Linked DNA regions of Homo sapiens: region 2 is linked to region 1. A link means that fine-mapping ties the variant in region 1 to the expression of a gene that starts in the linked region. Tissue or cell type: whole blood. Region 1 holds a variant in brackets; the other region holds the start of a gene. All regions are shown on one strand. Distances are from middle to middle.

What was found. PIP is the estimated chance that this variant, and not a neighbour inherited with it, causes the effect.
Region 2: SLC20A1 starts here. The variant in region 1 is fine-mapped to the expression of SLC20A1 in whole blood (TOPMed, PIP above 0.99).

What each region holds. Positions count from the first base shown.
Region 1 is chr2:112,617,038-112,625,369 of GRCh38, reverse strand. It overlaps the pseudogene RPS20P11. Among named protein-coding and RNA genes, the nearest start is that of SLC20A1-DT, 23 kb to the left of the region's middle. RefSeq lists an enhancer at 751-890. The variant A/G (reference allele first, on the strand shown) is at 4,072.
Region 2 is chr2:112,640,790-112,649,121 of GRCh38, reverse strand. It overlaps SLC20A1 (solute carrier family 20 member 1), which reads right to left and starts at 3,183. Exons shown (of 11, transcript NM_005415.5): 1 at 2,993-3,183; 2 at 1,960-2,559; 3 at 1,658-1,798; 4 at 1,384-1,469. The coding sequence starts at 2,293. It overlaps SLC20A1-DT (SLC20A1 divergent transcript), which reads left to right and starts at 4,942. Exons shown (of 5, transcript NR_033871.1): 1 at 4,942-5,023; 2 at 5,107-5,163; 3 at 5,829-5,943; 4 at 6,933-7,039; 5 at 7,140-7,292. RefSeq lists silencers at 1,936-2,230, 2,692-3,521 and enhancers at 6,161-7,360, 7,956-8,250, 7,490-8,332.

The sequences.
Region 1 (8,332 bases):
CGGCTGGGCGCTGTGGCTCACACCTGTAATCCCAGCACTTTGGGAGGCTGAGTCGGGTGGATCACAAGGTCAAGAGTTCAAGACCAGCCTGGCCAACATGGCCAACATGGTGAAACCCTCCCCCACTCCCGCCCTGTCCCTACTAAAAATACAAAAATGAGCCGGGCATGGTGATGCATGCCTGTAATCTCAGCTACTCGGGAGGCTGAGACAGGAGAATTGCTTGAACCCCGGAGGCAGAGGTTGCAGTGAGCCAAGATTGCGCCAGTGCACTCCAGCCTGGGTGACACAGCAAGACTCCATCTCAAAAAAAAAAAAAAAAAAAGGAAAAATTCAAAGAGCTATAGAGTCAGTAAAAAGTTTTAGTTGCCCCACCCATTCCTCCATTTCCCTTGCCCAGAGACAGTCTGCTGCCATTTTCTTGTGGATCCTTCTAGAAACAGTATCATGAACATAGTTATATGTATATAGGCATGCATTCAGTCAGTATTTGAACACCTGCTATGATTCAGTTACTGTTCTTCTATAAAACATATAAAAATCCTTGTTCTAGAGAACCTATATTCTAACAGGAGGCAAGGAGTCAGAGAATAAATGAGGTAAATCAAATATATGACATGTTAGATGTTGATACATGCAATGGAAAAAACTTACACAGGGTAGGTGAGTTGGGGTGTGGTCCCGAGTGCCTTTCCCCTGGGCTGCCTCTCCTCACCCTGAGAAACCTGGGGCCACACAGCTGGTGCAGCTCTCAATTCTGGTTTCTCACACGCAGGAACCCCACCCTGCCCTGGTGAGTCACGCCTTCACTTGGCTTCCTGATGTTGGAGGGCAGGCCTCCCTTACTGCCTCAAGGCTGTTCATCATCTTCAGCTTATATCCTGGGTCAACGTTGATGACTACTTTGCTGGCTTTAATTAAGTGGTCTATGGGCCAGGAGAATAAGGATCAACATCATCTGGGGACTTGTCAGAAATGCAAATTCTCAGGCCCCACCCCAATACTACTGGATCAGAAACTCTAGGTTGGGGTCCAGCAATCTGCGTGGTTTTTGTTTTAGTTGATGTTATTGTTTTAGAGACAGGGTCTTGCTAGGCCGCCCAGGCTGGAGTGCAGTGGCTATTCACAGGCACAATCATAGCATGCTGTAGCCTCAAACTCCAGGGCTCAAAAGATCCTTCTGCCTCAGCCTCCCAAGTAGCTAGGACTACAGGCGCACCCTACTGCGCCCAGCTGAGCAATCTGTGTTTTAAAAAGCCTTCCGGATAGCTCTGATGCATGATAAAGCTTTTATGAACCTCTGCTCTGCGGAAATGCCTTACCATCTCACATGCCTACCAGCTATGGTCATAAGCACACATTTTATATAATCGTACCAAGTTTTGAAAAATCTTTTCCAAGTTAAATCCTAGACAGGTGTACAAATTATATGTTAAGAAGTAACAGATAAATCTTACAGCCCAATTATTTGAAAATAAGAATCAAGTCATTTGAGTCTGGGCCTTCGAAATTTGACATGTAAGAATATTCATAGAAAATTGACTTAGTCCTAAATTCTTATCCCTAAATCCTGTTTTGTTTTGTTTTTTAATTTTTTTTTAAATTTTTTTTGGTTTTTTTTTTTTGAGTCAGAGTCTCGCTCTGTCGCCCAGGCTGGAGTGCAATGGCACAATCTCAGCTCACTGCAACCTCTGCCTCCCGGGTTCAAGCAATTCTCCTCGCACCTCAGCCTTTTGAGTAGCTGGGATTACAGGCGCCCGCCATCATGCCCGGCTAATTTTTGCATTTTTAGTAGAGATAGAGTTTCACCATATTGGCCAGGCTGGTCTCGAACTCCTGACCTCATGATCTGCCCACCTAGGCCTCCCCAAGTGCTGGGATTACAGGTGTGAACCACTGCACCCAGCCCCAAATCCTGTTATCTAAAAGATGACAAAATTTGAGCCTAGGCAACATATCAAGACCCCATCTCTACAAATTTTTTTTAAGAAATAGCCAGGTGGCTGGGCGTGGTGCCTCACCCTGTAATCCCAGTACTTTGGGAGGCAAAGGTGGGTGGATTACGAGGTCAGGAGTTCAAGACCAGCCTGACCAATATACTAAAAATACAAAAATTAGCTGAGCATGGTGGCACACGCCTGTAGTCCCAGCTGCTTGGGAGGTTGAGGCAGGAGAATCACTTGGACCTGGGAAGTGGAGGTTGCAGTGAGCCGAGATCAAGCCACCGCACTCCAGCCTGGGTGACAGAGCGAGACTCCGTCTCAAAAAAAAAAAAAAAAAAAAGAAAAGAAAAGAGAAAAGAAATAGTAAGGCATGGTGGTGCATGCTTATAGTCCCAGCTACTCAGAAAGCTGAGGCAGGAAAATCACTTGAGCCCAGAGGTTCAAGCCTTCAGTGAGCTATGACTGCCACTGCATTCCATCCTGGGCAGCAAAGAGAGTCTCTGTCTCTACTGAAAAAAAAAAAAAAAAAAAAGAAAAGAAAAGAAAAAAAAAAGAAAAGAAAAAATTTGGAAATAAATTAAAAGTGCATAAAAGTTATTAAAATACTGCTAAATAGTAATAGATAATTTATCTTCCTCTTTACACTCTGCAGAAGAAACGGTGAATGGTACTTATTAGGCAATGTGTAAAGCACTTGACGTGTGTAATCTTATCACATCTGCACAAATGACACACGATCCAAAGAACATTTTTGGCTCCAACTTACAGATGAGTAAGCAAGCTCAGGGAGGATCTTTCCTGATAGATATTTAGCAGCAGAGAGGGCCAGGAATTGGGTTCTGTAATCTCAGTCTGTGCTCATTTTACTGGAAGCCACATGTGTAGATACTGGTATTATCTGAGCCTAATCCCTGGAATCTCTATGGTCAATTGGAGAGAGGCTTAGGGAGGTCAGGGGATAGACAGGTCTTGGCCAGAGTCCACCTCACAGTGGGTCAGGTAGGATCCCAGGCACACCGTGTGGCTATTTTGCCAGCCTTGCTGTCCTTATCCGAGGAATGCGGTCTGTCATGGTGGGAATGCCCAGTTAGAATCCTTGAAAGGGCCACCTACAACCAAGATAATAACCTAAAAACAATTCTGTGGAGGAAGACGCGGTCGTAGGTGCTGAGGATTTCTCGTTCAGACGCTCCTGCTCCTGACTTACCGCTGTTCACTCTCGCCGAGGAACAAGTCGGTCAGGAAGCCGCGCAGCAGCCTTGGCTTTTAAGGATACCGGAAAACACCCGTGGAGCCGGAGGTGGCCATTCACCAAATTCGAATCACCCTAACAAGCCGCAATGTAAAATCCCTGGAAAAGGTGTGTGATGACTTAATCAGAGGCGCAAAGGAAAAGAATCTCAAAGTGAAAGGACCAGTTCGAATGCCTGCCAAGACTTTGAGAATCACTACAAGAAAAACTACTTGTGGTGAAGATTCTAAGACCTGGGATCATTTCCAGATGAGAATTCACAAGCGACTCATTGACTTGCACAGTCCTTCTGAGATTGTTAAGCAGATTACTTCCATCAGTATTGAGCCAGGAGTTGAGGTGGAAGTTACCATTGCAGATGCTTAAGTCAACTATTTTAATAAATTGATTACCAGTTGTTAAAAAAAAAACAATTCTGTGCCTGATGACATTGCAGAAATTAGTTCCATAAAGATTTGAAAGATGCAGGGCTACTGATTTCCATAACACCATTATTACCTCACCTATTTGGTCAGTGCAAGAGGCAAATGTTGGTGGAGAATGAAGGTGGATTAACACAAACATATTCATGGGTTTGCTTATCCCGCCCACAGCACTTCCTCCAGCACCATATATTCATAGATTTACAAATGCTTATTCAATTGCAATGATGTCTTACATACAAATTATTTGTCCATGGGCATGTTTTCATGATAAAAGATGTTAAGCTATGGGCCATGGCTATGGAGTTCCTGCTTACTACATGCCACATCTCCTAGCAGCAGGCAGCTTCACAGAAGGTAGTGGAAAGACCTGCCGCAGCCTTAATTATGGTGGCAGTGTGGGCTCCACATCTACGACTTTACAATGTGTAGTGAACCTTTGGATACCTCTCAG[A/G]ATTTCCCATCAGGACCTAAGCAGTGATTCCATGAGCTGCTAGAGTATGGACTGCTAATGATTCACAGGTGAAACCTCTTCCAAGAATGTCCTTGGCCCACAGGAACAGTCTTACCCAAGGTCATGCACCCTTCCCAGTGTAGGGACACACAGCCTGTTCTAAGGATATGTAATACTTCTGTCCATAATGGCAAGTGATGTTGCCTTTGGAAAAATGCTACAGTGAGAACAGCATTAGTGGGATGAGAGCACATCCAGGACCCACTGGGCTCCCTGAGCCCAGCCATGTGGTGTGGGTGAAGCAGTACAGGCGGGGAAAAGACCACTGCACTGAGGAAAAGAGCTGGCAGGGTCCAGCGTGCTTAAGAACAGTGTCCAGGCCAGGCACAGTGGCTCATGCCTGTAATCGCAGCACTTTGGGAGGCCGAGGCGGGCAGATCACGAGGTCAAGAGATCAAGATCATCCTGGGCCACATGGTGAAACCTCATCTCTATTAAAAATACAAAAATTAGCTGGGCATTGTGGCGTGTGCCTGTAGTCCCAGCTACTCGGGAGGCTGAGGCAGGAGAATCGCTTGAACCCGGGAGGTGGAGGTTGCAGTGAGCCAAGATCAAGTCCCTGCACTCCAGCCTGGCATCAGAGTGAGACTCCATCTTAAAAAAAAAAAAAAAAAAGCAGTGTCCGGCAGACTGTACAGACTGCACTCTGCTCAGGCCAGTTAGCTCTAATGATCCTTTTCAGCTACAAGTGCCAGTGACTGGCTACTCTGTAGAATGGGGTCATCAGGCATCAAAAGAGTCACATAATGGCATTACAAGATGGCCAGACATCCCTTGATCCCAGAGGAACATTTTGTGCCAGCACCTCCAGCTTCATGGAGGCATTGATACACCAAGTCCCTGAGGATGCCTGAAGCTGGTTCACAGATGGAGCCCGCTAAGTTACAGGCTGGCGGATTGTTCTTGGCCCTTGCAGCTGTGCAGCCACAGGGGAAAACAAAAGCTGTTTAAAATTTTGCACACAAAAAAAAGGTACTACCCAGTGGACAGAGTTGGGGACAGTGGTGGTTTTCCTGAAAAACCCCTCCAAAATGCTCCTTGCTGCTTTTTCATTGATTTAGAGACGGTAGCCAATGGGCTGGCAGTGCGGGCCTGTGCCTGGAAGCAAGACTAAATGATCAAGTCTCAATCCCTATGGCAGTGAACATTATGGTATCAGACTTTTTTTTTTTTTTCTGAGATGGAGTCTCCCTCTGTTGCCCAGGCTGGAGTGCAGTGGTACGATCTCAGCTCACTGCAGCCTCCATTTCCCAGGTTCAAGTGATTCTGTTGCCTCAGCCTCCCAAGTAACTGGGATTATAGGCTTGCACCACCGTGCCTGGCTAATTTTTTTTTTTTTTTGTATTTTTAGTAGAGACGGGGTTTTGCCATGTTGACCAGGCTGGTCTTGAACTCCTGACCTCAGGTGATCCACCATGCCTGGCTATTTTTTTTTTTTTTTATTAGAGATGAGATTTTTGCCATGTTGACCAGGCTGGTTTCGAACTCCTGACCTCAAGTGATCCACCGCCTCAGCCTCCCATGCTGGGATTACAGGCATGAGCCACCGCACCCAGCCTCAGATTTTATTAATACTACACCACTGCCCTCTGTTTTATGGATGTGGATGTCCATAGAAATAGCATGAGTGGAATTCAAAACCCAATCAGACTTGTGCCTTCCAGGTAAGGACAACTGAATACATCATCACAGAGGCCACGACATTCTGTCTACAGTGCAGGACTGGGACCCAAAGCAAAGATGAATGACTCCAGCACAGGAAGCCACCGAAGTCTGGTAAATGAGCCTGTCAGTCAAGGGGCAAAGAAAACTCCAGGGCACATATAAACTCAGGACACCAGATTCTGGCCAGTCCTGGCAAATAGGCTACATAACCTCCTAAATGCTCCACTTGGGGATGCAATTAAGCATTTCCTACAGTAGGCACCTTTCTGGGTATGGCATGGCAATGTAGGTCCTTACCACAGATAGGAGGTAGATGTAACATAAATTTAGGGACTCGCAGATGACCTGTGTTACATACTGAGATTCCCTGAATGTATCTCATCAAATGATGCGCATTTATAGTCAAGAGTACCCAACACTGGCCAACCACCTTGGACATTGCCAGGACATCTCAGGACCCTCATCACCCACAGGCAATAGATGCCATAAAAGGATGGAATGAGGCTGGGCGCCATGGCCCACACCTGTATCCCCAATACTTTGGGAGGCTGAGGCAGGTGGATCGCTTGAGACCAGCCTGGGCAACATGGTGAAACTCTGTCTCTACATAAAATACAAAAAATTATCCGGGTGTGGTGGTACACCCCTGTGGTCTCAGCTACTGGGAAGGCTGAGGTGAGAGGATCACCTGGGCCCAGGAGGTTGAGGCTGCAGGGTAAGCCGTGATTGAACCACTGCATTCCAGCCTGGGCGACAGAATGGGACCCGGTGTCAAAAAAAAAAAAAAAAAAAAAAAAGAGAGAGAGAGAGATGGATGCTTAAAGGAGAAGCTAAAAAGGGTACATAGAGAACCAAAGCTCAATTCTCAGTAGAGTACACACTTAAAACAGACAATATGGATTCTAAATGTGCCAATACCCCAAAAGGGAACTTCCTTTTTAAATAGAATCTGTGTGAGTTTGAGGAGTCGGGGAGGAGGCCCAGACTGTCTGTAAGAGACCCAAACCAACACAATATACTCTCCTTCTTCATTCCTCCTTTCCCTCCCACGCTCACCCCTGGGGAAACCAAACTATGCTGCTTTTTTCTTTTTTTTTTTTTTTTGAGACGGAATCTCACTCTGTCGCCAGGCTGGAGTGCAGTGGCGCAATCTCAGCTCACTGCAACCTCCGCCTCCTGGGTTCAAGCAATTCTCCTGCCTCAGCCTCCTGAGTAGCTGAGACTACAGGCGCCCACCACCACGCCCGGCTAATTTTTGTATTTTTAGTAGAGACGGGGTTTCACCATATCGGCCGGGCTGGTCACAAACTCCTGACCTCAGGTGATCCACCCACCTTGGCCTCCCAAAGTGCTGGTATTACAGGTGTGAGCCACAGCGCCCAGCATTTTTTTTTTTTTTTTTTTGACACGGGGTCTTGCTCTGTCGCCCAGGCTGGAGTGCAGTGGCACAATCTTGGCTCACTGCAACCTCCGCCTTCCTGGTTCTAGAGATTCTCCTGCCTCAGCCTCCGAGTAGCTGGGACTGTAGCTGGGACTATAGGCGTTTGCCACCATACCCGGCTAAATTTTAGGTATTTTTGGTAGAGACGGGGTTTCTCCATGTTAGCCAGGATGGTCTTGATCTCCTGACCTCGTGATCCACCTGCCTCGGCCTCCCAAAATGCTGGGAATACAGGTATAAGCCACCATGCCCAGCCTAACCTGATGCTGCTTTTACTGTCCAGTTATGCTTCCTGGATCTGGGCAATTATAGATACTGATGATATTGATCATGAGTATGAAGTGACGACTCCCAAAGTGGTCCCGGCATGGCACACTATGTGAGGGAGTGGAAGATGTTCTAGATGGCACAAGTTGCAAACACACACACGCACACACACACAAAGCTGCACTGCTTAGGAATAAACTCAGCCATATGGTGTGTATTAGACTGAGTGAGGACTGCAGGGACTAGCTATACCTATCTCATGGCCATGAAAAAACATCAAAAGCCCAGGATGGTGGTGAAGGAACACTCTAGATCTCTCTTGGCTCTTGCCTGCAGAACACCTGGCTTGGCCTGTCATCTCAGAATCTTTTTGTCATGTTGTCCAGGCTATCACCACTGCCCTCAGTCTAACTACTACTCCCATTCTATCGAGAGACCTTAAATCGAGGACCTCCAACTTTAGAAGTGGAGAACTTCTGCCCAAGACATCAGAAAAAAGATAATTTTCTGGACACTTAGGTTTCTTTCCTGCTTTCTCCTATCCTATTATTGCTGGTATCTCTGGTCCCCTTCCACTACCTAAAAAAAATAACAAAACTTCCTTGTGTTGCTCAATCTGTCTTACCCCTCCTGACCCTGCTGACAAACTTTTAATAGCTCCTCCTGCCTGGGCTCGATGGCTCATGCCTGTAATTCTAGCACTTTGGGAGGCTGAGGCAGGTCGATCACTTGAGATCAGGGGTTCGAGACCAGCCTGGCCAACATGGTGAAACCCCGCCTCTACCAAAAATATGAAAAATTAATCAGATATGGTGACATGTGCCTGTA
Region 2 (8,332 bases), 24 kb before region 1:
ATTCCCCTTCCGGGGAATAAGTGTTTTGTGGAGGTGAAACACACAAACCCTCTCCAAAAACAAAATGATCTGCTACTCAATAATCAACACAGGGCCAGCATAAACCTTTACCAAGCAGGAATTCACAACAGGAGATCCTACTAATGCTTCTGACTCTCTGCTAAGTAGCAAGATATACAGTTCTAATGAAAACTCTAAAAAAAACAAAAAAATCTGGTCCATGACTACTGGTGAGCCTCTAATTTAAGCATCCCAGTATCATACACTACAGTTGTAGGGAGTGGGAAGGTAGATGCTTATCGTACCTGTCTGCTGAATAAAACAGTACCAAACTTAGGAGTCCATAAATATCAATGAACTGTTTACTCTCATATTATACCAGGCTAAAGATATTTCAAGTTTTCAAAGTGTTAAACTGCTATATTCTGCCAGATTCTGGCTATGGAAAACAGTGATTAGTGAATCACTTTACTAGTCATAGAATTTCTACAGAGAAGAGACAAATCTTTCCCTAGAGAAGCTTACAACTAGACCAGACAAGTGGGTCTGAATACATTCTTACCTGCTGGGATTTATGCTATCTCCCTCAGATTTCTACAGTTTAGGAACACTTTTAAGAACTTACAATGGATTGTTAAGAGCCATTCACCTTAGAAAAAGGACAACTTTGTTTCCTGAGAAAAATGCATTTATCCTCACTGTAACTCAGTCCTATGCCAACATAATCCCTTGTCAACATTTATTTTGCAGCCAGCAAGACTTCTTGATAAAAGAAATGCAAACTGGGTCACTTAAAAGGGATTTTCAAATGGACAGGAAATTAAATGGCTGCCTGAAGTTTTTTTGGGGGGCGGGCCAAAAACTACCTTTAACTGGTTCTTTTCAACTATTCTGAGAAATTGGAGTCAAGTCACTATGGGAGGCAGAGTCCTCATCTAGAAGCTTATAAACTGGTTATGATAATCAGCACGGCAGAGACCCATTTAACTGGCAGCTTAGTTAAAAAAGCCACAGGGGACACTGTCTTGAACTCCAAGTTTACGTATTATATTAGCCTGAATATAACAGTGGTTTAAACAAATAATGTGTATACAGCTACACAAAACCACGCAAAATAAATTTCCTTATTTTTTTGCTCCCAGTTTCTCCTACTTCTTGGCACATCATAGTATTCAATTTTTCCTTCCTGACTGCCCTCTTGAGTATTAAAAACTCGCTTTCAGAGAACTCCACAACATACAAGAAATGCACAGAACAAAGAGCTTTTTAAAATTTTCCAAGGCCGCATACCTATACACCAATCACATCTGCAAAAGTACCACTGGGTTTGAAATCGATTGGGTGTGCTCCATGAAAGGTCTTCATACGGGGGAGAAAGGTTACCTTATGGAGGATGAATGCACGAACCAGGAAGAATAAAATTCCAGACATAATTCCAGAAAGCAGTGGGGACACGAACCAAGACATCACTGGAATAGAACACATTAAGAAAAAATATCAAATAATGAAAATCAGAAACCAAAAACCACTTTAAATGTTTAAGAGTTCAAAATTCTTGGGTCTGTCCCTCGACGTTAGAACACATCCTCCCATACCTAATGCCATGGTAACATATGACGAAAACGAAAATTAAGAAGCCGTTTGGAATTAAACATACCAATTTTTATCAGTTCAGACCACTTGACACCCTCCTGCCCCTTTGCCACGAGGGAGAAACCAATAGTTGCACCAACAATACAATGGGTTCCAGAAATAGGGAGCTTCAAAAACGAAGCCACGAGTTGCCACACAGCAGAACCTGAAACATAGTAAAGTTTTATTAAGTAAATATCAAAATTCCATTATGTAAGTGGCACATTCAGAAAGGTTAATCGGAAAGGTTATGCACAAAAATGGAACCACCCATGATACAAATTTGCTCACCCACCACGAAGAGGACAAAACATAAAAAGAACTTACCAAACATAGCACTGACTGAGCCGGCCATCAGCAGCCCTTGAGTCGAGTTGTACATCTCCACGTCAATCAAGCCCTTCCGGATGGTTTCGCTCACTTTGGCCCCCAGTAAGACAGAGCCCACTGTTTCAAAGATGCTAGCTAGGATGCAGGCTTGCTTCAGGGTCACTACACCTGAGCCCACAGCTGTACCAAAAGAATTTGCTACATCATTGGCTCCCACGGAGAATGCCAAGACAAATGCAATAATGAAGCCCAGGATGAGCATCCATAGGTAGTCCACCAAAGGACCAGAAGCGGCGGTAGCAGCTGTAGTACTGGTAATCAGCGTTGCCATTCTCTGGAGTAGTGGTTGTTTAGTAAGAGAACTACTGAGCGCCTTTCAAGATGTGTAAACAGAATATGAGGTATCAAAAATGCTATAATAAATAATATATATTATATAAAATTAAATACTGTAAACTACGGCACAGAAACCGAGCTGGGGAGTTACTGCTATACGCTGCGTATGGGCATCTGTTGTCTGGGGTTTCTTTGGCTCAGGAGGGCTAAAAGCACGGAGCAGAATTCCATGGCGGAGAAGAGAAAGGACGCAAGTTCATCCTGCGGGGGAGGGGGGAAATAACAATAGCTGCGTGCCCCTGGGGGGCCAGTGGGGCACCCCGCTCTACCCACGCGCCCGGGGTCCCGCAATAGCCTCTGCCGGCTACTCCAGACCCCCATCCCCAGTAGGACGCGCGAGAAGGAGAGGCACGTGGCTCCGGGTCCTCCGCGGCCCGCGCGCGCCCAGCCCAGCCCCTGCGCTGCCAGCCCGCGCGCGCCCTCCGCGCGAAAATCGGAAAAGGGCCGTTCCCGCGCGCGCCGCCCGGGGACCGCCAAAAAGGCCCGCGGGCGGGCAGACGGGCGGAGTGGAGGCGGCCAGCGGCGAAGAGAGAAGCCAGCCGCGCCGCCCACGGCGTCCGCCTCCAGCGCCACGGCGTCCGCGCCCGGCCCCGGGGAGAAGAAAGAGCCTTTACGAGGCGGCGCCACTACTCACCAGGGAAAAGGGAGGGCGGAGCGGGAGACGAGGAGATCGAGGCGACAGCGGCTGGAGCCACGGGCACACGGCCCGGGTCGGCGGCACCGGGGACAGCTCAGCGGGACTCACGACCTTCCCAGGAAGCAGCCGCGGGGGTTTCAGCGGCCGAGAAGAAGAACCACGCAGAGAGCGCCGGCAGCCATCACTCCAGCGGAGCACCCCGCCGGCCCCTACTTATAGCCCGCGCAGCGACCCGCGTGACCCCGCCGCGCCTCGCGCCGGCCCCGAAGCCCCGCCCCCGGCATGACGCAGCCCTCCTCGGCCCGGCGTGCCCAGCCGGGTGAGCCCGACGGTGGCGCTCATTGGCCCGGCCCGCTTCGGCGGCCACGCCCCCAGCGGGGAGCCGGTCCACGTGGGGCGGGACAGCCCCCTCCCTGCGGCCTCGCCCTGGAGTCTCGGCACCGTCTGGCCCCGCCGGCTGATTACAGCCAGAGATCGAGGGGGACCTCGCTGTCCCCCTAGAGGCCGTCATGCGGGGTTACAGAGGCTGCGACCAAAGTCATTCCTAGCTCCTCTCTCGGGGCTCCGGAAAGCCGTCCGCGCCTCCAGCCGCACTTTCAGCGCACGCAGGACCTGCCGCGCCCGGTGGCCACACCCGTCCCTCTGCCGGGTGACGCTGCGGGAGATCTTGCGCCCTGGGGCTCCGGATCCAGTTCTGGCACGTTGTTGCACCTGTGACTTGTCCTTGGCCTGGCACTGTCCCTCGCCTGGGGGAAGCGGGGGGGTGGGGGGGGGATGCTCACGTGGTCGCTTTGCTCCCGCAGTCATGCACTTGGGTGAAAACAGACTGAAGAGTCACGGGAACCAGCTTGTCTCCCCAGTTATGGCGCAGAGCTGCAAGGATGGCTGTGGGTCATTAATTTCTCCGTGGCTGACCTGTGTTTGTAACGCCGCAGCTGTTGCGAGGGGGAAGGACACTGCTTCGGATTCAAATTCTGACTCCTTGCTGCAGTGTGTCACCTTGAGCCAGTCCCAGATCTCTGCGTTCTCACAATTGTAAAATGTTAACAGAGGCTGCCTACCTTGTGGCTGGAATTAAATGAATTAACGTGTGTGAATGTGACTAGAATTCAGTACATGTTCAGGAAAAGCTGATTTCCGCTTTGCTGTTACCGTGAATATTACTGTTTTAGGGTGTAGAAAAGGGTGGAAGGGGATGTTATTGCATCCTGGAAGCTTATCCTTTTGAGGTAAAGATTGATTTCTGGTCCCCTGCGTGGTATATAGTGTAGTTTTGACATTATTTAGATGTGTTATGCACATTTGGGTGTTGATTATATGGCTTACGATCAAGACTAACCAGTCATGCCGTGGGAGATTAAGGTCGTGGTCTCTTGTCAGGATTGTAGTGAGATTTAAAAATTCCAGCCAGAAATACCAGGCTTAGAATGCTCTGAAGCCCTCCCCACATTTTTGCCATCTCTAGCAGGAGGGCACTGCATAGCAGAAACAAAGACGTTGTAAATTGTTGCTGCCTGAGTCATTTATAGAGGCTTAAACAACCTGAATGTCCTCTGACCTACCTGTAACATTTGATGGAGTTGTATGAGTAACTTACAAAGCTGTAGGTCCCAAGGTCGGTCTGAAAAAGAAAGTTCATATCCGGGAGCACTGACCCCGTAGTGTAATCCTGGCACCTTAAAACGTACTGCTCCCTCCACCTTCACTTCAAGGTTATGAAAACATTGAGTAAAAGGGATGATCTGTTCAAAGTCCTTAGTGTTCTGCCAATTTAAAACAGTAATTTTCAAAGCAGTTATTTGCAAGGAAATTGCCTAGAACTTCTCCCAGTGTGCGGTTGTTTTGTGTGTTTGTGTGTGTGTTTTGTTTGTTTGTTTTCAGTCTGTCCACAGGCGTACTTTTATAGGTCTGTGATAGTAGGTAGCTCTTCAAGTTGGCAAACACCTGCTGGACAACCCCTGAGAGATTCATCTGAGTGAGAGAGCACTCTCCAGCCCCATCGGAGTGGGTTTGCAGGGAAATCATAAGGTAGAGATTCAAAGGAATTCCCTTGCGTTGCAAATGAAAACTGTATCTTCAGACTCTGATATAGTGTAATCCTTCCTTTTTAGGAAGAAATCCTTATCTTTCCAACACTGAGATGCTTCTGCCGAAGAGTAGAATGGGAGGTGAGGAATTGGGGTGGGCCCTCACTGCTTTGCCTCCGGATCAGTAGGGTACAGCCCTTGGAGACCAGGATCTTCCTTGGCTGGGACACCTTCGTCCTCCCCTAAGGGAGGAGAGGTAGGGATCTGCCTGTGGAAAGAAGTTACAGTGCCTTTTAAATAGAAATAGGAGGTAGGAGGACCGTCAGTTGTCAGTTCGTGCACAAATGGCATTGTTTCTGGCCTTATCTCTGAATGCTGAGGAAACAGGTCAGAGATCCTAAAGAGAATCTAATCTCTTAGAATCCAGGCATTGGCACAAACCCCCTCTAGCATCTTAGGGAGGTGGTTTGGTGTAGTGGTTAAACACATAGACTGTAAGACCAAACCACCTGCTCTGTCACTCACTAGTCCTGTGACCATAGGCAAATAAATTATCTGCCTCAGTTTCCTGATCTGTAAAGGGGTGAGATTGAGACTTCTAACTCACAGTGCTGTTGTGAGGACCAAATGAATGAATATATGTAAAGCCCTTGTAAAAGGGCTCTTATTCTCTTTGTTCAATAACTAGCTGAAGGCCTGTCATACATAGCCCATGTTTAAAATGAAGTATGTGTCAGATGTCAGGACCACCCTCTTCTCCCTGCCCTCTGATCCAAGCCCTTTCAAATTTCTCCCACGGCTCATAGTGAGGGGACACGCAAAACGGGCTGCTGCCGGAGGAAGAGGAACAGTGTTGTGGCTCATGCCATATGAATGGGCTCACTGGCCTGGCCCAGACCCTGACTGCCCACAGGATCTTTGGTGAGTCACTGTCACTGAGCCTGTGAGCCTAGGGTCCCTCTCCAACCTCACCCTCAGAGAGGACAGAACAAGATGACCTGTGGCATGCTGCAGAACACCATGTTGGGGACTGTGGGTTTAGAGTCCTCTTGGGGACATGTCCATCGTTCACTAATTCGGTGGAGTTGAGCTGCTGAGAGCTAGGAAAGCTACTCTCCCCCCGGATCCCAACCTAGCCCTGTGGAAGACCAGACAAAAGAAGGAAGCAATGACATTTCTGCACTTTTTAGTTCAGAGAGGCACAGTCAAGGAAATGCATTTGAGGTCACTGTTCGATGTACTTGAAGTACTCATCCTGGAAATAGTCTACTTGGAGTAGAGGGAGCTCAAGTGGGCATGGGAACGTTGTGGAACCAGACCAGGAACAAAGGCGGCTTCAGAGGCCGTCTGTGAGGACTTGCATGGGAGCAGGGGCGAGAACATCCAGGGAAGAGAAGGTAGGAGCCTTGGAGTAAAGGAGAACCAGCTCCTCTCCACCCACCAATGCCCTCCCCATCCCCAGATGAATGAGGTAATAATAATACCTGTAGCTGGACATGGTGGCTCAAGCTTGTAATCCCAGCATTTTGGGAGGCCAAGGCGGGTGGATCACCTGAGGACGGGAGTTCGAGACCAGCCTATCAACATGGAGAAACCCTGTCTCTACTAAAAATACAAAAATTAGTTGGGCACGGTGGTGCATGGCTGTAATCCCAGCTACTTGGGAGGCTGAGGCAGGAGAATCACTTGAACCCGGGAGGCGGAGATTGCGGTGAGCCAAGATCGTGCCATTGCACTCCAGCCTGGGCAACAAGAGCAAAACTCCATCTCAAAATAATAATAATAATAATATCTGTGATGCAGTTGAATGCTTACTGTGTGCCAGGTACTATTTCAGGTGCTCTGCATGGATTATCTCAGGTGATGCTCTCAATAAATCTCAGATGAGGTATTTTCCCCTTACTTTATAGACAGAGAAACGGAGGCACAGAGAAGGAAGCGGCAGTTAAAGCTGCGAAGAACCTAACAAATTTCAAGATTGTAAGTGCCTTTTCCCAGGATGCCAGCAAGTACTGAGGCAAGTATGATTGCCCTAGGTGCCAACTCTTATTTGCACTTAACACATTTACTTCCTCCTTCTTTCCCCCTCCTTTTTATTAACTCTGTTGCTTTTACAGCCTGTATTTTGAGCTGCATCAAACCCTGTTGGAATAAAAAAGGACATTTCTAGGAGATCAGTCTTCGAGATTGGCCCCAGTTTCCCCAGAGTAGGAAGAGGCAGGAAGCCAGAGCACATGTTCTCTCCAGAAATAAAGTTGTTGCAGTGGCCTAACCGTGTCTTAGAGTTACTGAAAACTCTGTTCTCTTGAGATTTCTCAAGAAAGGAAACCTATCTTGCAAGACAAAACCCACCTGTAGTCAATTCCTACAGGAAATAAATTCAAAATAATGTTTCAGGCAAGGGCCACATGTCACCACCACCACTTTCCCACCAGCTTTGAATGTGGCTGTCCTCTGTGTCTCCAGTCATTTCCCATTTCCCCCGGCATCTGTGGCTCTGTCCTGGCAGAGTCCAAGGGATGCTTGGGATCCAGGTGGGGGAAGGGTGCTTGAAAGCACCCAGACAGCCAAGCCCTGATATGGAGACTGGTTGAGACTGGTTGTGACTGGTCTCAGGCCAGCATCCCATGGCAAGAAAGCTGAGTTTTGGTTGTGCCAGACAAACTGGTGGGTCTATTTCTCCGCCAACACAGGAGTATGGGAGGTTGGCCCACCCTCTCTAGATTTTACATGCCTCTGTCCTGGCTGCACATGGCCTGGTCTCTTCCCTTTGGCTTTGAGTTCACACATGTGGGTGTGATATGGCATAGGAGCCAGGCAGAGGGAACAGAAGCACAGTTCTTAGAGCTTGAAATGGTCCAGGTGTCTCTGGAGCCAGCTTCTGGATAGCACAGCATCCTGAATACTTCTTTAGGAAGACGTCTCTGGTGACTTAAACTGGGACTTCTCGCTTTCCCCAAGGCCCAGTTTTCTCAGCTCTTAAACAGGGAAGAAAGGCAACTTGCTGGAAACTCAGGAACTTTGTGTAATGAAGATCCTACAGCAGAAAAGGAAGGGTCAGCTCGCTGCCCGCACAGTCCAGGATGTGTGGTTTTAGGCTGAGAAAGTGAGGGGGCAGCAGGACGTGAGTCATCCCCAAAGTCATCCCAGGAGGAGGTGGAGGGTAACAGCATCTGGCTTTGTATGGCTTCCCTAGCCTTTCATTCATTCGTCTGTTCAGTCAACAAATAGCCTGCTATGGATCTAGTGGATCAACAAGATTGACCAGCCCATGCTTTTATGGGCCACAAACCCCTTCTTGCATTGAGTT